4 separate regions of the Homo sapiens genome follow, and all the other regions are linked to region 1. The links come from fine-mapping of genetic effects on gene expression. A gene starts in region 1. Each other region holds a variant in brackets. All regions are shown on one strand. Distances are from middle to middle.

Region 1 (5,151 bases):
GATATTGCCTAGGTTTTCTTCTAGGGTTTTTATGGTTTGGGGTTTTACATTTAAGTCTTTAATCCACCTTGAGTTAAAAATACTGGCATATTGTATAATTGTACTCACTATTTAAGAAGGGCCAAATCTCTTATCAAGGATCTTTGAGTGAGGAAGTGCATGTTAGTGTTCTAAAGATTGAAAGATTGAAACCCGTGGTACCAGTCTGCAAGATGACCCCAATAATTGCTGACTCCTAGTCACACCCTAGTGTAGTCTCCTCCCACATCAAACAGGGCTGCCTTGTGTAACCTACAGGATATTGTGGGAATAACAGTGTATGACTTCCAAGGCTATATCATAACACACATTGTGGCTTCCACCTTGTGCTCTCTTGGATGCTTTCTCTAGAGCAAGCTTGTCCAACCCATGGCCTGTGGACTGTACACAGCCCAGGACAGTTATGAATGCAGCCCAATGCAAATTCGTAAACTTTCTTAAAATATTATGAGATTTTGTGATTTTTTTTTTTTTTTTAGCTCATCAGCCATCATTAATGTTAGTGTATTTCCTGTGTGGCCCAAGACAATTCTTCTTCCAATGTGCCCCAGGGAAGCCAAAAGATTGGACACCCCTGCTCTAGAGGAAGCCAACCGACAAGTCATGGTGACACTTAAGCAACTCTATGGAAAGGTACTCATGACAAGGAACTGAGGCCTCCTTACCATTCATGTGAATGGGCTGTCTTGGAAATGGATCTTCTTGACCCAGTCAAGCCTTTAGATGGCTGTGACCCCTGTCAACATCTTGACAGCAATCACATGAGGCTTTGAGGTAAACTGCTCCCAGATTTCCGATCTGCCAAAAATGCTGAGATTATGCATGTTTATTGTTGTAAATCATTAAGTTTAGGATAATTTGTTTCTACAGCAATAGTTTACAAAGTCTTTTTCCCCCTAAGAAATACTAACAGTGATACAAATGAACATGGCCATCTTAAGGCAAGTTGATGGGCTCTGTGGAGTTACTGGTACTTAGATGGAAACTTATCTCAATAAATTTGCAATTTAGTTTCTTGTTTCTCAAAGTCTTGTACCAAGACCAGCAGCATTGGCATTACCCAGGGGCTCATCAGAAATGCAGAATCTCAAACTCCACCCCAGAGCTACAGAATAGCAATCTGCATTTTAACGAGATTCCCCTATGACATGTAAATATATTAAAGTTTGAGAAGAAGCACTGATTTATTTGATTCCTGGTGTTACAGCCTGTGGTTGGAAACTCTGGATATACCTTAGGGGTACTTTTAAAAAAATACTGTTGGAGAAGCCCGTCTCCAGAAATTCTGATTTAACTGATCTAGGTTGAGGCCTTTTAAGGTGGTGGACCTAATGATGCTGCAGGATTTTCCTCTAGAAAAACTACATTGAAGCCTCAGATCAGCTCTGACTTCCTAGCATGCCCCAACCCCGCAGGAAGTTAGGTATGCCCAGGTGTATGCCCAGAACTGCCTTAGGAGTAGTATTGTGCACCGAGCAGGAGACCTTTCTGGAGCTGCCATGAAGGGTGTGTATGCGTGTGTGTGCGTGTGTTTGGTGGGGCGCACCAACTTCACAGATGCTAGACCGTTGCATGTGCTTCTACCTTCTTTTATTCATGCTCTTCCAGGACTCAGTTCAACCCGAAAAAAAGCAACTATGCCTTTCTTCCTGAAAGGTCAGTTTGGATTGCTGTCTAGGGCTGCTCAGAAAACCAGGTGTTGAATGTTCTAAGGTTTCACGTGCCAAATTGGGATCAAACATATTTGAGCTTTATTTTTCCTAATAACAAAATGCAAGTAACTAGTATTTCTCTTAAGTCTTGGAAAAGATGTTTTTATTGTTGAATAGACACTACGGCATTAAGATTTCCACTATGATGGGTGCTCACAAATGATAGGCCTCTTAGGTAAGAAGCTTTAATTGACAACATTAAATATGCGGGGCGGGGGGAGTGGGTGCAGAGTCTCTCTTTCCTTTGTTAGGGCATCCCAGTGACAGAAACAATGCCTGACACATGGTACGCTCTCGATAAATATTCGTTGATTACATAACCCCCTCTACCACCCAATAACTTCTCATCATTCATTCAAAGTTACTGAACGTACCATATTAGCGAATCTGCAATGGAAACAGTGGAGGCTGTTTTCTCAAAGGATTTTCTAATAAAGCAACAAATCTTTTTTAAAAAAAATGAATGGTGTGCCCCAAGTCAATGCTGGGCTTCGGATTTCTGCGGTAGTTTGGCCTGGGGTCCTCACTGGGATGCTGGCTGGGGATGTGCTCCCTGCCCTTGAATCTCCTTCCTTTGTAGTTTTTGGCCTGCGCGGTTACGTTTCCCAGGCGGAGGAGCGCGCGTCGCGGCTGCGCCCATTAACGCGCGGCGCCGGGCAGGAGCCGTCAGGCGGGCGGGGCTGCCCGGGACCCGCAGGAGCTGCTCCTCCCGCGCCGGCGCTCGGCCCCCTCCTCCGCCCCCTCCTCCGCCCCCTCCTCCCCTTCTCCGCGGTTTGGCATCCCCGGGGCCGGGAAGCCTCCTCCAGCGCTGACAGCCTGTCGGCGGCGGAGGGAGGCCAGAGCGCGGATGCTTGCCAGTGGGCCGGGCCTGACCGCTGCGTGGGAGGCGGGCTGCATTATTTCCCGCTAGGGCCGCGCTCCAGGGAAGGAAGGGGCCAGACACGGCCCTCTCAGCCCCGAACGGCGCGCGCTGCCCGGCGGGCGGGATCCGGGCGCGGCCGAGGCGGCGGCGCTGCACCCCGGGCCTGGGCCCGCGCGACTCCCCCGGGGGCCTCTCCCACGCTCCGCGCCCCGCCCCACCCTTCCTTCCTTCCTCCCCTCGGCGCTCCCGGGAGCGCTCGGCAGACGCCCGAGCTTTGTGGGCGCCCGCGGGCCCAGCGCGAGCCTCGGGCGGCCCAACTTTGCCTCTCCCGGTCGGCTCCCGAGCGGGACTTGTGAGGCGTGGCCGGGTGGAGGAGGCGCTTGCGGGGGCGTGGGGCTCCCCGGCAGGCGGGAGGCACGGAGCAAGTCGCACTGGACAATGACCTGGGCAGCTCGGCGCTGCGGACACTTTTAGCTGAGGGCGCGGGCGGGTCGGCTCCTCCGCGGCTCCTCGGCCCCACCTGCGCGGAGAGGGCGGGATGCCAGAGCCAGGTGTCCCGGCGCGTTAAGGGCCCTCGCAGTCAGACGTCCCTGCACCGGCGCTCGCACCCTTAGTCGGCCCGGAACGTCTTTTTGCGGACGCCCTCGGAGCAGCCGCGATGGCCAGCACCAGGAGTATCGAGCTGGAGCACTTTGAGGAACGGGACAAAAGGCCGCGGCCGGGGTCGCGGAGAGGGGCCCCCAGCTCCTCCGGGGGCAGCAGCAGCTCGGGCCCCAAGGGGAACGGGCTCATCCCCAGTCCGGCGCACAGTGCCCACTGCAGCTTCTACCGCACGCGGACCCTGCAGGCCCTCAGCTCGGAGAAGAAGGCCAAGAAGGCGCGCTTCTACCGGAACGGGGACCGCTACTTCAAGGGCCTGGTGTTTGCCATCTCCAGCGACCGCTTCCGGTCCTTCGATGCGCTCCTCATAGAGCTCACCCGCTCCCTGTCGGACAACGTGAACCTGCCCCAGGGTGTCCGCACTATCTACACCATCGACGGCAGCCGGAAGGTCACCAGCCTGGACGAGCTGCTGGAAGGTAGGAGGGGAGGGCGCCGCACGGCAGGTGCGGCGGAGCGCCGGCAGGTGCAGTGGGCGTGAGCCGGCGCAGCGGGGAGCCCGCGGGGTGCTTTCCAAGCCGCACGGGAATTGATGCTTCTGTCTGCTTCTCTAGAGATTGGCTGGGGGTGGGGGCCGGTGGGGTGCCCACATACACACTGACTTTCCTTCCCAAGAGGTTTGTCTCTTAAAGAAGGAAAAAATTTCCTGATGGTCAGGCCAATTTAGGCACTGGTGGCATCTCCTAAGATTGTTGAACTTATTTGTATTGAAGTGCAAACTGTTTGAGAAAATGGTTCTCCCATGGGGAGCTGGGTAATCCCCTACTAATAAGCTCTGTTGGACCCTCGGTGTGGACCCTGGTGCAGGCTCCTGTCATGTTCCAGTATTCGGGGTCCTGTTGTGACTGCTGTCAGAAGCTGTGGTTGTGAAATGCTCTAGGTTGGCTTTCCTAGTTTGCCTTGCAGCAGAAGTTACTTGAGGTGAAGAGGGATGATCCTAGACAGCAGGTCTCAACCTTGGCTTCATCTTGGATCACACTGGGGACTTCGAAAAATATGGGACCCTGATCCCCCAACCCCCAGATATCCTGATTAAATTGGTTGGGTTTGGGGTGTGGGTTAGGCGTCTGGAGTCTCAAAAGCCCCCCCCCCAGGTGATTCTAATGTGGGACCCTGGTTAACAATCACCGTGCTAAAGGGTTTTCCACATTTGGTTGGAAAAAAGGTAAATCAAGGTCAATCTCTCCAGCCTTATCCTCTAATAAGAGTACCTAATTAGAATGATAGAGGCCATTGGATTCAGCAGTGGGGACTTATTAAAAATTAGTAATTCTGCTGTGTCAACCATGCCTCGGTCAAAGAGACTGCTTGGCTGGATGTTGGGTCATCCTTGAATTCCTGCAATACGTATGCCTCATCCTTTTCAGGTAGAAAAGGCATTATCAGTGGTTAAGAACCTGTTTCCAGTTCTAAATAACATCCAGAAAGACCAGGCAGAACCCAGGTATGTGCTGACTGCGTGTTTACATACAGTCCGCTCTTGTGCATCTTTCTTAATGCAAATGGCACATTCCATGTAGTCATAGCAATAGCTTGGCAGGGAGAGGAAGCTGAACATCAAGCCAGATGTTTTTCTTATATTATCTCAGCATGCTTTTCTGTCCTGAAGGCATTATCCCCATTTTATAGATGAGGAAACTTAGGCAGCATGCCTTGCCTCACAGTGCCTGCAGCATATACTTTCTCGTCTACGATTCACCTCTGCTGAGCTAATGGAGCCACATGGAGGAAAACTAAAGGTCGTTGAGTTTGTCTATTTAGTCAGAAGTTTTTGCTGCCCTGCCTAGAACGCGACCCAGCCAAAATTAAATTGTCTCTTCAGTCTACATATGTATGTGCTTGTGACTTCACCCATTCTGTCAGTTGTGTGTTTTGGTT
Region 2 (5,151 bases), 170 kb after region 1:
CTTGGCATGTGGAGGGCACTCATTCGGCAACTCCCAGGCTTTGGGCACTGTGTGGAGGGGCTTGTGTAGGGACCAGCAGGCCTGGTGTGAGGGGTCCAGGCGTCAAGGAGCTCCTGGCTGGGCCCTCTGGGCAGCTGCTTCCACTCTTGTCTCTGCCTTCTCATCTAGAGAGACTCCCAAGCCCTGGAGGGGTGTGTTGTGTTAGGAATTAACTCCCTGCCTACCCCAAGGCCTCAGAAATAGATTATTAGAGATGTGAATTATTCTTTGAGACTTGGGATAAGAAACAGCCAAAGCTAAACATATTTCAGTTTTAAAAAATCAGTGTTTTATAAAACACAGTTTGGGGCTTTTAAAGGTACATAATCAAGGAAAAAAATATATATTCATTTTTCAGGGTTGGTAACATTTTATGAGATGTCAGTGACAACGATGGCCTTATTTTTTTCAGCCTTTTCTTCTTCCAAAATGTTTCTTAAGGCAACTCTCCTAAATACATAAACACAACAAATTAAAATGAAAAGTGACATGAGAGTAAATGAATCAAAAGGAAAAAACATTGAACCAGAGGTGAGGGCAGCACACCCGCAGCAGCTGTCCAGGCCTGAGCCAATGCAACCCTGGGCGGGAAGGCCAGCTCACCGTGAGCAGGTAGAAGCCAGCCAGCCACCCAGGCAGGGACCTTGGTTCTCCCCACACACTCCCAGGAGCAGGGAACAGGGGTGGAGTGGCCTTTCCCAGAGCTGGAGTTGGCTGCAGCAGCTTTCGAATCAGACCTGCCAAGGTGATGGGCGTCTGAGTTTCACATCTGGGCCCCCCGTGACCCCACTGAGTCCTGACAGCTAAGGATGGGCCACCTCCACAGCTCCGTCACTCGTACTTGGGACAGGCCTCTCATCCTCTGGGAAGGTCCTCCTTGTTTCCTACCCAACTAGAAGGGAAACAGTGGCATATTCTCATGGTACATGGTTGTCTGAGAGCCTTACCTAGGAAGACGCAGGGTCTAGATAGAAGCTATAAGGAAGCCACACACATAACCCACATCCCCACACCCCCAACATCCCCCACACTCCCCACACCCCCCACACCCCCCACATCCCCACACACCACAAATCCTCCACACCCCCACACCACACATCCCTCACACCCCCCACACCACACATCCCCCACACCACACATCCCTCACACCCCCCACACCACACATCCCCCACACCACACATCCCTCACACCCCCCACACCACACATCCCCCACACCACACATCCCTCACACCCCCCAACACCCCCACACACCCCCCACACCACACATCCCCCACACCACACATATCCCCCACACCCCCCACACATCCCCCACACCCCCCACATCCCCCACACCCCCCAAATCCCCCACACCACCCACATCCCCCACACCCCACACATCCCCCACACCCCCACACATCCCCCACACCCCACACATCCCCCACACCCCCCACACCACACATTCCCTCACACCCCCCACACCACACACCCCCACATACCCCCACACACTCCCATCCCCCACACCACACATCCCGCACACCCTCCACACCACACATCCCCACACACCTCACACCCCCCACACCCCCACACAACCCACATCCCCCGCACCACACATCCCCTACACCCCCCACTCTACACACCCCACACCCCAACACACCCCACATAACCCCCACATACCCCACACCCACACCCCCCACACCCCCCACACCCCCACCCCCCACATACACACCCACACACCCCACACCCCCACATAGCCCACACAGCCTACACACCCCACACCCGAACACACCCCACATACCTCCACACACCCCACACCCCCCGCCCCCACGAGCGTGCAGCACTCTGTTATATGCATTGAGCATACACCAGGTACCCCCACACACCCCCAACACCCCCACACACCCCACACCCGAACACACCCCACATTCCCCACACACCCCACACACCCCAC[G/A]AGCATGCAGCACTCTGTTATATGGATTGAGCGTCCACCAGGTTCTCAGCACCCACTGGGCCGTCATTCTCTTCTGTCCCCCGGCTGCGTTTATGTGGCCACCCTCTGTGTGTCCTTGCAACTCCCCAGCTGCTCCCCTGCCAGAAAGTGTGCTCTCCCTCTCTCCCTCTCTCCCTCTCCAGACAGAGCCTGGGTTTGCAAGCTGAGTCTTTTGATGGCTTGCAGGACTTTGGGGGCGCTCTGTGCCAAAGCAGTGAGAAGGCCTTTTGAGTTGTGGTTTCCCTTGAATTTTAGCAGTGTTTTGCTGAAAGCCTGAGAAAGTCAGAGTTGTCAAAGAATTACAGCTTAGACACTTTGAAAAGAACCATCTTGATTGAGCCAACAGCATGAGAATGTTTCCAGCGATTCCCTTGCGAGAGCTAGCATTGATGGATGGGCTCAGTGGTACACAGTCTTGCTGTGCACTGCGTTGTAAGGCAGCTTCTTGGAAAATTTAGAAAAATAAAACATTAAAAATTGGCATACTCAACGTGTCATGAAAAAACCTTAAGAAGAGAGATTGGTTAGGATCAAAATTTAATAACCATGTTAAGTCTTCTGAGAGGAAGAACCTTTAACCGCCCTGTGCCCAGGGCTTAGGAGAGTTTGCTCGGAGACTGTGAAGGGAGTCATTGCTGGGGTCACTTTTTGACTCAGGGGCCCAGATAGGAATCAGTGGCCATAGGCCTGTGCCCGGCCTCTTTATGGCTGGCTCTCAGCTGACATTCTGGAATGATTAGCTGTTCTACAGGCTCTGTCCTAGATAATGACGCTTAGACCCCCTCAGACAGAACCTATGTCGTGTGGTTTACAAATACCATTTTCCATTTGCTGATGAGGAGTTCAGGACTCAAAAGACAAACCCCTGGGCTCTGACAGGGTGTTTGTGTGAACAAACAACCCGTTATTGTTTGCAGCTCTGATGGTGATTGTAAATGTTGTATGTTTATGTGTGTTCAGTTGTCATTTTGCGCATGTTGGCAGGGTGTCCCCTCTAACCCCATGTTACCTACACAACTCTGCAGGCTGTTAGCTCAGAGGAACTGCTGATGTCATGATCCCATTCAGTACCTACAGGGAAATTCAATCAGTCTTGCCTCTGGTGGCACCCATTCTCGATGGCCAAAACACCAGCCTGTGACTTTTGGGCTGTCCCAAAAAGTGGGAGGGGAAGGCCTGCTGCTGATCCTCCCCTGGCGCAGGACCTGGTCTGGGGCATGGTTGTGTGGGGGAACTTGCGATGCTGCTGTATTGTCCTCCTCGTCCTCCTCATCCTCCTCGTCCTCCTCATCCTCCTCATCCTCCTCATCCTCCTCACGTCACTGTGTGTCCTGTCTTCGGAACAGTTTTAAGTGTTTTTACATTAAAAATAACCTCAAAATGACTCTCCCTGGTACTCATAGGTCCTCATAACTGAGACTGTGGGGCCAACCTGGTTTTCTGCAGATACAAATGATAGTGGAAATAGTGTCAACCGTCTGGAGGTTGAATCATCAGATAACTTACAGACAGGACCTTCCCATCTGCTGTCACCCTAGTGTTCTCATCCCCAGAGCTGGGGCCTGAGACTTCAGTGAGAAAATGATGGGCTAGAAATTGGTCCATAAAGGTGAAAAAAAAGTAAAGTTGATGGTGTTATCTGCATTTTGTTTGACAGTTTGATTTGACAGTTTGAGAGGCACCTCAGAGTTTCCTTCTTTACCCCGCTGAGACAGTGGGAGAGCCTGAAGCAGAATCCTGGTATTCACCACGCTGCGTCCGACCAGCGCGCCCCATCCTCAGCCCCTCTCACGCCTGCATGCTTGTCTCAGTTTCTGATGCCGCCGTCCGGCTCTCAGCTGCTTACTGGTGTGGGTCTTTTGTACCTACTCACATCCTTTCCAGCCAGCCAAGCAGGCCCCTGGAAAACTTTATTTTCAAACTTCTCAGCTTACCACACTGCCTGCCTTTCCAGACCAACAGCTGGTGAGAGCACGGGAGGAGTCCCATAGTTCTCCTACCGATGCTGTTTCCCACTTAGGTGAAAAGTGGCTTTTCGGAAAGAGCAGCTTAAGATGGTGCCTTCGTGAAGGCTTTTGTTCTTTCTCCAGCTGCATTTCCAAAGATGAGTTTGTATCAGTAAGTGTAATCTCAGCCAGCCTTTGGGATAAGAGAAGATAATTTAATGGGTGAGGCCTTGGTTTCAGGCAGGGCTGAGGTGTGGGATTACAGTTCCCATTTTCTTGGACTTGTCCTTAGCATGCGTAAGAAAGGACAGAGCAGGGTGCATGCAGGACGGCCTCCCATGTACCCCGGGGGGCTCGCCCCAGTTGCAGAGACCAGGAGAGACCATCTTGTGGTGGGAAGGGAATGCCGAGAAGCCGCCGTCACTCGGCGCCTGCGGTGCAGACTTGAGAAGGGACGGATTCAAGGGCATTGCCTTCTTCGCTGGGGGATTATGCCTTGTTTCAGGGGGAAGTTGGGGAAGGATTTGGGTTTATTGCCTTAATTTAAGATAGACAAAACTGTTTCACTCGTGTTGCTTCTGTTGAAAGTAAGTCTAGTTTCTGTCCCTGCTTCTCTCCTGCCTTCTGCCTCTCCCGCCGCCTGCATTGCTTCCCTCTGGCTAGGTCCAAGGCCATGGTATGTACTAACCGCACTGCCAGCCTGCCTTCTGCCACACACGCCCCTGTGCTTCTGACAGGAAGAGAAAAGGAGAAATAACGGGGGGATTGTTTTCTTGTACCCAGGAGACATTTTGTGGTAGGAAAAACCTGTATGCTGGCTCTCTGCTTCCCATGTAGGTGGGAGCATCTTTTAGTGGAGTTTTCCACAGTTACCCTTTCTCCAGGTAGTTGAAATTGTCCTTGGAAATTGTAGGGATTTGGGGAGTTTTGTTTATTGAGACAGGATCTTGCTCTGTTGCCCAGACTGGAGTGCGGTGGTGTGATCCTAGCTCACTGTATCCTCAAACTCCTGAGCTCAAGCCATCCTCCTGCCTCAGCCTCCAAGTAGCTAGGACTACAGGTGCACGCCACCTTGCCCGGCTAATTTTTAAATTCTTTGTGGAGATGGAGTCTCTGTGTTGCCCAGGCTGGTCTCAAACTCCTGACCTCAAGTGATCCTCCCTCCTTGGCCTCCGGAAGTGCTGGGATTACAGGTGTGAG
Region 3 (5,151 bases), 86 kb after region 1:
ATTTATTTACTTATTTTGAAACAGGGTCTTGCCCTGTTGCCCAGGCTGGAGTGCAGTTGTACAAACATGGCTCACTGCAGCCTCAACCTCCTGGGCTCAGATGATCCTCCCACCTCAGCCTCCCAAATAGCTGGCACCATAGGCATGCGCCACCATGCCTGGCTAATTTTTTGCATTTTTTGTAGAGATGGGATCTTGCTATGTTGCCCAGGCTGGTCTTGAACTCCTGGCCTCAAGCAGTCCTCCAACCTCGGCCTCTCAAAGTGCTGTGATTACAGGCATGAGCCACTGCATCCAGCCTGATTTATTTTTAATACATTAAAGTTGAGTTATTAGGGACAGAGGAGAAACTTTAGACCCTCTGCTCTTCAAGTATTGGGATTTAGGGCCAACTTTATTAAGTAGTATTATCTTCCATATATATTTGTATAACTTTCCTCATAAAATTTCCATCCCATGTTGTGAAAGATCAGAATGTTAATTTTAGTTAACCTAATAAATATCTAGATATTTTAAATTAATTTATTGAATGTAATTTCAAATTAAATGTATGTCTTAATTATGTTTCTGAGCTTTTTCTAAGTCTTCTATTTTTTTTAATTTTTAAATTTTTTTATTTTATAGAGATGCACTCTCACTCTGTGGCCCAGGCTGGTCTCAAACTCCTAGACTCAACTGATCCTCCTGCCTCAGCCTCCCAAAGTGCTGGGATTTTAGGCATGAGCACTGTGCCCAGCCTAAGTCTTCTATTTTAAAGGCCTTCCTTGCTGTACGTACTCTTTGCTTCCTGGGACATTGATAAGTTTAACCTAGAAGTAGCTGCAACATAGAGGACAATAACTCAGACCCACATTTGACAGATCTTCTCTTTTCACTCACTTATTCTGCCTCCTGGCCTTATCATTTAGCTTACTATTTAATATGACATTAGAATTGTCTAACGAATTGTTGGTACTGAGAATTGACTGTGACTGCGCAACACATCTTTCTTTCTTCCAAAATTGGCAAAACGACAGTTGGTTAATCATTCTGCAGGGCGGTACCTAAGCAAATGGAGTCCTATCTTTTGAAACCAGTCATTTAAGGCTGGGCTCGGTGGCTCACGCCTGTAATTCCAGCACTTTGGGAGGCTGAGACAGGCAGATCTCCTGAGGTCAGGAGTTTGAGACCAGCCTGGCCAACATGGTGAAACCCTGTCTCTACCAAAAATACAAAAATTCACTGGGCGTGGTGGCAGGCACCTATAGTTCCAGCCACTTGGGGGGCTAAGGCAGGAGAATCGCTTGGACCTGGGAGGCAGAGGTTGTAGTGAGCTGAGCCTCTGCCACTGCACTCCAGCCTGGGTGACAGAGTGAGACTCCGTCTCAAAATAAATAAATAAATAAATAAATAAATAAACCAACCAGCCATTTAAATATCATTCATTCCCTTTTTTCTTCAATAACTACTACATTATAGAGGAGTTCAAAGCCCAGGATCCTTGCCCAACCGCCACCCCATGGTGTGTGATTTCATTATATAACTTAATCTCTCTGAGCCCATTTCCTTGTCTATACTATGAAGAAAATTATAGAGCTCAGTTGTCTGAATTAAATAAGATACTATCTAGAAAATATTCTCTCTGGCTTTAGAACTCAGTAAGAACTCAGTAAACATTAGTTATTAAGCAGTTACTATATTGTGCAGGCATGCTCAAGATTATATGTTTTAGGCACTTAATTTGTATCACATTTTTCAATTTCTAAAAGCTGCTGTCTTGCATTGTCATTTGGACCTCAAGAAAATGAATGATTATGATTGAGATGAAGAGTCACCAAAGTTCTTACCAATTTTAGGAAGTTAGTTATTTTATTTATAATTATTTTCTACTTTCCATGGTTAAGGACAGTACCAACCCTTTGCAACATCTGTTTTGCTTTTTGTTTTGTAGAGCTGTGATCTCACTATGTTGACCAGGCTGGTCTCAAACTCCTGGCCCATCCTCCTGCCTTGGCCTCTGAAAGTGCTGGAATTATAGGCATAAGCCACTGCACCAGCCTAACACAGCCCATTTTATTTCTGACATTTCCTTATGGTTTTTAGGCCAGCAATATAAAGTTGACCCTCAGTTTTCCTTGGAAGTTAGAGTATAATGTCTGTCTCTTTAAGACAGTTGATTTTAACCCCAGCTGCTAATTAGGATGACCTTGGAGAGACTTTGGCTGTTACTGATGAAATACAGATGCCTGGCCCCATGCCCCAGAGTCTGATTAAGTGGTCTGGGTTGGGCCTGTGGCATCAGCATTTTTGAACTGTGCAGCCACTGCTCTAAGGAATATTTTCAGTTTACTTACTTACCCCCCTACCCCCATACCCTACTCCCAAATTAAAAGCCTATAGCTCATCAGCAAATTGCAACAATTCCAGATAGTCTATAGATTAACAGCTGTTAATTTGTAGATAAATGAATTAGCTAAGTACATATATTGTTTAAAAATATTTTAAGGGTCGGATGTGGTGGCTCACACCTGTAATCCCAGCACTTTGGGAGGCCGAGGTGGGTGGATCACCTGAGGTCAAGAGTTCGAGACCAGCCTGGCCAACATGATGAAACCCCATCTCTACTAAAAATATAAAAATTAGCTGGGTGTGGTGGTGCACACCTGTAGTCCCAGCTACTTGGGAGGCTGAGGCAGGAGAATTGCTTGAAC[A/G]CAGGAGGTGGAGGTTGCAGTGAGCTGAGATTGTGCCACTGCACTCCAGCCTGGGCAACAGAGTGAGACACTGTCTCAAAAAAAAAATTAAGTCCAGTTATATTTTATTAGTACAGATTAACCATAACATATCTCCTGGAGTACTAAAAATTCATTTGGAGTTGCAATATCATTGTATAGGGTGAAACAAAAATTATCTTGATTCTTGTCACACTGTAAGACCCTTACTGTTCTCCTTTTAAAGATTTTGAGCACACCAATTTATGACAACACTTGTTTTGGTTTACATGAGTAATCTCTGATTTTGTAGTGAATAAATGGGTTTAACCATCCTGAGACAAATTCATTCATAATCTTTAGAGAAGATTCCCTGAGGGCATGAACATTCCATATGCCTGTAATGATGGAATATACCTTCGGGAGAGGAACTTCCTTGTTTAAAAACACTTTTAACAACTGCTGAGGACTATGGGTGTTGTGATTAAATTAAAGTGGTCATTGAGCTGTGGAGTGTTTAATTCTGTGGTTTCTTCTGATCTTTGTCTGCCTTTGAGTACACCAGCACTGTTTCTGTTCTATAGATCTGGCAGCTGTTAGAAATGCCATGCGTGTTTGCTAAGAATTGGGTGGTAATTTTATATACAATAACTGCTGATTGGGTTGCCCAGGGTTGAGTTTTTTTTTTGATTTGTCTTCCCACATGAAGTTGGTTAGATTGGAAAATTTGCTCCAATTGCTAAAGATTGCTTTTAAATGTGCAGCATATTAGCCACAGTTGTTGCCATAAGCAGCTGCATGCTGCATATTAGCTTGAATACACAATAAACATTTTATGGTTGGAATAGTGAATATCGCTGGAGGAGAGAACCTATTTCAAAGAGAACATAAATTGGCCTATAAAAAAGTAAGCAGAAACCTTAAACCTTAGATTGTTAGGTTTGTGAGTCCTCTGCTTAGAACTGATGGAAGGGCTACCTTGTTACATTTACAGTGTTACCTAGGTTCATTTTAATTGTTTCACCTGATGCTGTGGTTTGAATGTGTCCCCCAAAAGTTCATGTGTTGGAAACTTAATCCCCAGTGCAACAGTGTTGAAAGGTAGAGCCTAATAAGATCTGATTGGATAATGAGGGCAGAGCCCTCATGAATGGACTGTCATTGTTATGGGAGTAGGTGAGTTATGAGAGTGAGTTGTTATAAAGTGAGTCTGGCGCCTGGTGCCTCTGTCTTGTGTGTTCACTTCCACCTTCCCCCTTCAACTGTGGGATGACCATCTGTAGACACCAGTGCCAAGCCCTTGGACTTCCCAGCTTCCAGAACCGTGAGAAATAAATTTCTTTTCTTTATAAACTACCCAGACTGTGGTGTTCTATTGTAGTCACACAAAACTAAGAAGACACCAGGTGTCCGAGTTTGGATTCTAATCATTTAATGGAGGTAATTTAGATATTAATACCAACACAGAAGTTATTTAAAAATCTAACACGGCCAGGAATGGTAGCTCACACCTGTAATCCCAGCACTTTGGGAGGCTGAGGTGGGAGGATTACCTGAGCGCAGGAGTTCAAGACAAGCCTGAGCAACATAGCGGGACCCCATCTCTACATAAAATTTTTAAAAAAATTAGCCAGGTGTGGTGGCATGCACCTGTGGTCCTAGCTACTTGGAAGGCTGAGTTAGGAGGATCACTTGAGCCTGGGAGATGAAGGCTGTGGTGAGCTATGATTGTGACACTGCACTCCAGCCTGAGTGACAGAGTGAGACCCTGTCTCAAAAAAAAGTACAAAAAACAAAAACCGATATTCTACTTGTCCCCAGCATTCTTCATTACTTGTGAAATTGCGAGTATATCCTTGTTGTTTTATCTTTGAAGGGGTGAAGTTCTGGGAGCTGCCTTGTGTGATGAGTACACATTTTCCTGTTTTCTTTGTGTGACAAATGACTACCTAAGATGCAAATGTTAATGCATAATTTATCTGAGTTTGTAATTAGAGCAAGGCACTCCAAGCAGTGATTAAGTCCTTTTTGTTCATGCAATCTTTGTGCACTGTCATGAAGAGGTGGGTGCTTGCTGGGCTGATTGCTGGTCCTTTTCTGATTAGGAGACAACGCTCAAAAAGCAGCACTTCTGACTTTTTTCAGATCCTTCTGAATGGCAGGGAGCCTTGCCTCCTTTTCAGAGATCTTCCTTGTCTTAAGGATAAGTGGTGGGCGGGACACTGCCTAATGATAACTATGATCATGTAAAATAGCCACTGATTAAAGAGTAGTTCACTGGGCCCGCCTGGGTGCATTATTCTCATTGGGAGGCACTTACTGGGGTGGGGTCGAGGTAATTCTCTTTGATATTCAGGAGATAAATTGTACTCATCAGAACCCCATCAGTTAGTTAAAGGCAGTTTAGAATGTGCTTTCCTGATTTTAAGAGGGAAAAATGCCAAAAAAAAAATATCTGTTTCAA
Region 4 (5,151 bases), 46 kb after region 1:
TATTCAGTAAACCATGCTGTAAATAGATGCACTGTCATCCAGACTTTGTTGTTCCATTTATAGAGCACAGGTAGAGTAGATTTACTATAATTCTTAAAGGCCTTAGGATTTGGGGAATGGTAAATGAGCATTGGCTTCTTTTACTCTATTTGATAGCATTTTAGCCACAGTAGAACTTCTTTCAAAATTTGTCATTCCTCCCGAGCCCTGCTGCTGCTTTATCAACTAAGTTTATGGAATATTCTAAATCCTTTGTTGTCATTTCAACAATAGAGCATATATGCTATTACTGGGTATATACCCAAAGGATTATAAATCATTCTACTATAAAGACACGTGCACACCTATGTTTATTGCAGCACTATTCACAATAGCAAAGACTTGGAACCAGTCCATATGCCCGTCAATGATAGACTGGATAAAGCAAATGCACATATACACCATGGAATACTATGCAGCCATAAAAAAGTATGAGTTCATGTCCTTTGCAAGGACATGGATGAAGCTGGAAACCATCATTCTCAGCAAACTAACACAGGAAGAGAAAACTAAACACCACATGTTCTCCCTTGTAAGTGGGAGTTGAACGATAAGAACACATGGACACAGGGAGGGGAACATCACACACCAGGGCCTGTCAGTGGGTGGGGGGCTAGGGGAGGGAGAGCATTAGGAGAAACACCTAATGTGGATGACGGGTTGATAGGTGCAGCAAACCACCATAGCACGTGTATACCTATGTAACAAACCTGCACATTCTGCACATGTATCCCAGAGCTTAAAGTATAATTAAAAAATTGGTTGTTTAATGTATACACCTTCATCAGTTGTCTTAGCTGAATCTTCTGGATAACTTGCTGCAGCTTTTTCATCAGTACTCGCTGCTTCACCTCACACTTTTATGTCATAGCAAGGGCTTCTTTCCTTAAACCTCATGAACCAACTTGTGCTAGCTTCCAGCATTTCTTCTGTGCCCGCATCAGGTAAGAGCTTTGTCACCACTCTCAGCCTTCATAGAATTGAACAGAATTAGGACCTTGCTTTGGATTAGGCTTTGGCTCAAGGGAATGTTGTAGCTGGATTGATCTTCTCTTCCAACCAAACATTCTCCACATCAGCAATATGCCTTTTAATTCATGTGATAACTAAAGTAGCAATTTTAATTTCCAAGAGCTTTTCTTTTGCCTTCATAACTCAACTGTTTGGGGGAAGAAGCCTAGCTTTTGGCCTGTCTTGGTTTTTGACATGTTTTCTTTACTAAGCTTGGTCATTTCTAGCTTCTGATTTAAAGTGAGAGATTGACTCTTCCTTTCACTTGAACACTTAGAGGCCATTGTAGTGTTATTAGTTAGCCTAGTTTCAGTATTGTTGTAACATCTCAGGAAATAGGGAGGCCCAAGGAGAGGGAGAGAGATGAGGGAGCAGCTGGTTGGTGGAAAAATCAGAACACAAACATTTATAGGTTAGGTTTGCTGTCTTACATGAGCGCAGTTTCTGGCGCACCAAAATGATTACAGTAGTAACATCAAAAAATATCACAGATGACCCTAATGGCTATAATAATAATAAAGCAGTCTGAAATATTGTGAAAATTATCAAAATATGACAGACGTGAAGCGAGCACAGGCCGTTGGAAAAATGATGCCAGCGAACTTGCCTCATACAGGGTTGCCACGAAACTTCCATTCGTAAAAAGCTCAGTGTCTGTGAAGTGCAGTAAAGTGAAGTGCAGAGATATCCCTGTGTTTGCCTTTTCAGTAACCCTCTGCAGTTTTTCAGATTTAAAAATTAACGTTGGACTGGGTGTGGTGGCTCATGCCTGTAATCCCAGCACTTCGGGAGGCCAGGGCGGGAAGAGTGCTTGAGCCCAGGAGTTCAAGACCAGCTTGGGCAATTAGTGAGACCTCATCTCTACAAAAAATTAAAAAGTAGCCGGGTGTGGTAGCACATGCTTGTAGTCCCAGCTACTCGGGTGGCTGAGGTGGGAGGATCGTTTGAGCCTGGGAAGCAGAAGTTGCAGTCAGCCAAGATCACACCACTGCACTCCAGCCTGTCTCAAAAAAAAAAAAATTAACCTCATACTTTTGGTTTTAAATAAAGAAGAGCGCCACACTTGAAAGAGCAAGACAAACTTTCATGAATATTCTCCCTGTGTATTTTTAGGACATTTAATTGTAGTGTGATGCAGCTGCCAGACTCTCAGCACAGTGTTGGAAAGCTCTGTAGTCATTAGACATTTGCCTCCACAGAAGTTTAATTCTCTGAGCCTGAGGACTGTTAGCGATGAAGCAACGCCCACCCAGAAGGAGCATTTCGCTTTTCTTTATGCATTTCAGGCTCTTAAGACTTTCAAGAAGATTTTATTTAAAATTTTCTTTTTTTGTTTTGTAGTGGTTTATGGCAGGCTTCTCATAATGTGAACATAAAGACATTTGATTATATTTGAAAATATTGTTCTTTT[A/AG]GTTTGCCCACATTCTAAGTCATTAAAATGCCATTTTAAGAATGAGTTATGGAAGATATTTAAGTATCTGTGCATCAGTGCATACTGAAGCTGACGTTAGTTACATGGTTGCATTTTTGAATCATTAAGTTTATTAAACACCTAGTCTTTTACATTGTATATTTTTGTGGTAAAATATTATGGCTGTCACATGCCATTTTGAAAATGCAAATTAAAAAGTTTTTACAAAAACCAAAAGTTGCATAAATGGAAACTTATAAAAGCCCACTTAAGTAACTTAATCCAAATTTTAACATCTTAGATGCCTCTCAGCTTAATACAGTAGCCCAAATTTTACATGTAGACAGAAGATGAAAGTTTAAAAGTTTTTCTGGAAGTTAAAAGTGATTTTCTCTTGCAGAGCATTCCCACCTAGGCAGTACCAATCAATGTCTTAATTACTTCTTGAGCTTTTAAGACTTGAAAAATGTCAGTATGATTTGTGCCCCCAAGGAGCTGGTTGCATGCATTGGAGTCCAGAAAATACAAATTAAAATTTGATTTAAATATATTTATTTCCCCTGACACACAATTCCATTATGAGACAAGTTTCACACAGGTACAGTGACAAATGCCATTAGAGATGAGAAAGACACCAATGTTTTTACTAGCAGTATTGTTTCAGACTATGCATGTTGTCATGTCGTTCTCAAGATCATCTTGTGGTAGGTATATGGTTGTATTCCCACATAAGGAATGCCACAGAGACATTCAAAGAACTTTTGTCCTTTGGTTTTGATTTGTCATGTTGGATATAATCAGGATGCATTTATCTTATGAATCTCTGGACATTTTTTTATTTGCTCTCAAGGCTCATTTCCAAGATTCAAAAATCAGTTTTACCACTCTATAATTATTCCTATTTTCCAGAATATGTTATGTAGTATAATTATTTATTCAATAGACTTGGCTCTGACTAGCTTCTTAAACTTTTTCCAGAACTTTTATTGTATTCACCCTCAAATGATGAAGAGTGACAACCATCAATGATATTCAAAGAATATGATATAGAAGTAAAACATTTCCAAAGTTTTATATACTATTTTGAGCCAATGTTTGGTAAGTGGGAAAACTGAATTCAAAATTGTCTACCCTATGTTTATAACTATCTAAAAATGACTATCTAAAAATAGTTATGCATGTGTGGCCAGGCGCGGTGGCTCACTCTTGTAGTCCGAGCACTCTGGGAGGCTGAAGCAGGTGGATCACTTGAAGTCAGGAGTTCAAGACCAGCCTGGCCAACGTGGTGAAACCCCATCTCTACTAAAAATACAAAAAATTAGCTGGGCGTGGTGGCATGCACCTGTAATCCCAGCTACGTGGGAGGCTGAGGCAGAAGACTCACTTGAACCCGGGAGGCGGAGGTTGCAGTGAGCTGAGATCGAGCCACTACACTCCAGCCTGGGCAACAGAGTGAAATTTTGTCTCAAAAAAAAACCACAAAAAACCCACAATAAAAATAGTTATGCATGTAGACAATACTATAAAATAATATAAAAAGAAAATAATTTGTCTTAGTGATAGGATTGTGAATGACTTTTCTTTCTGAAAATTTCCTTTATTGTTACAGTTATGCAATAAATTAAAGTCAGTATTTTAGGCAGTCTCAACATGTTTGGATACTATGAGAGTGGACTCACAAAGGAGTCAACTGATCTTCAGACCTTTGAATTTTGCCAGTTGCCCCTCTAAGAAGCCATTCTTACAGTGTTTGTGAGCAGCGGGCTAAGATACGACAGAAAATGTTTTTTGGCTAATGAATAATTAATTCATTCAGCTATTATTTTGTGCCTATTCTATGGTAGGCACTCTACGAGACACATGAGGAACAAAGATATGTAAGACAAGGTCTCTGTATTTTGAGGAACTCTTATTGTAGTAGAAAAGACAAATGCAAGAACTAATAATAATTTTAAGTCAGGGTGAGTCTATTAATAGCCAGCAGTGATGCAAGAGACTGTGGTCAAAGAAGGGAAGCTAACTCTTTGTAGAGGCATCAAAAATGCTTCACAGAGGAGGTGACAGATTTGTTAAGGATATTCCAGGCCGTGGAGTAATAGGTTTTAATTTGGTGCTTTAATTTGGAAGAATATCTCAGGAGATGGTAATATGTATTTTAGGTCTTTTTTTAGGGCTTTACAATTTTTAAAAAATATATTTTGGCTTTTATTTTGAAATAACTTTAGACTTACAAAAATTGCACAAATTGTACACAGAGATTATATATGCCCTCCATCCAGCCTCCCGTAATGCTGATATCTTCTGTAAACATAGTGTAGTTATTTAAAACAGGAAATCAACAGAGTTGGTGCTATTAACTGATCTACAGACCTTATTTGAATTTTGCCAGTTGTCTCATAAATGTCTTTGTTTTAGTACAGCATCCAATCCAGGATCCCACATGGATTTACTTGTCATATCTCCTTAATAGCCTCTAATTTGTAACAGTTCCTTTGTCTGTCTTTGTCTCTCATGATCTTTTTGAAGAGTTCTGGCTAGTTGCTTTGTACCGTTTGCTTCAATTTTGGGTTCTCTGGTATTCCCCTGTGAATACATTGTGGTTATGCATTTTTGGCAACAATACTAAGGAAGTTATATTGTGCCTTTTCAGTGAATCATAACAGAAGGTATATGATCTCAATATATCTCAT

Direction of the effects. Alleles are on the strand shown, and positions count from the first base shown. SD is a standard deviation of normalised expression in the study named. Not every link is listed here.
In carriers of allele A in region 2, the expression in tibial nerve of the gene that starts at base 2,689 in region 1 tends to be lower than with G alone (small effect, 0.17 SD a copy in GTEx).

The links. PIP is the estimated chance that this variant, and not a neighbour inherited with it, causes the effect. A credible set is the group of variants that fine-mapping cannot tell apart.
Region 2: its variant is the best candidate, but not a certain one, in a credible set for the expression of DCLK2 in tibial nerve (GTEx, PIP 0.65).
Region 3: its variant is the best candidate, but not a certain one, in a credible set for the expression of DCLK2 in left ventricle (GTEx, PIP 0.81).
Region 4: its variant is the best candidate, but not a certain one, in a credible set for the expression of DCLK2 in whole blood (INTERVAL, PIP 0.52).

Annotation. Positions count from the first base shown.
Region 1 is chr4:150,075,757-150,080,907 of GRCh38, forward strand. It overlaps DCLK2 (doublecortin like kinase 2), which reads left to right and starts at 2,689. Exons shown (of 16, transcript NM_001040260.4): 1 at 2,689-3,692. The coding sequence starts at 3,272.
Region 2 is chr4:150,249,812-150,254,962 of GRCh38, forward strand. The region is part of intron 15 of DCLK2 (doublecortin like kinase 2); the gene reads left to right. Among named protein-coding and RNA genes, the nearest start is that of DCLK2, 170 kb to the left of the region's middle. The variant G/A (reference allele first, on the strand shown) is at 1,967.
Region 3 is chr4:150,162,032-150,167,182 of GRCh38, forward strand. The region is part of intron 2 of DCLK2 (doublecortin like kinase 2); the gene reads left to right. Among named protein-coding and RNA genes, the nearest start is that of DCLK2, 86 kb to the left of the region's middle. The variant A/G (reference allele first, on the strand shown) is at 2,691.
Region 4 is chr4:150,121,963-150,127,113 of GRCh38, forward strand. The region is part of intron 2 of DCLK2 (doublecortin like kinase 2); the gene reads left to right. Among named protein-coding and RNA genes, the nearest start is that of DCLK2, 46 kb to the left of the region's middle. The variant A/AG (reference allele first, on the strand shown) is at 2,462.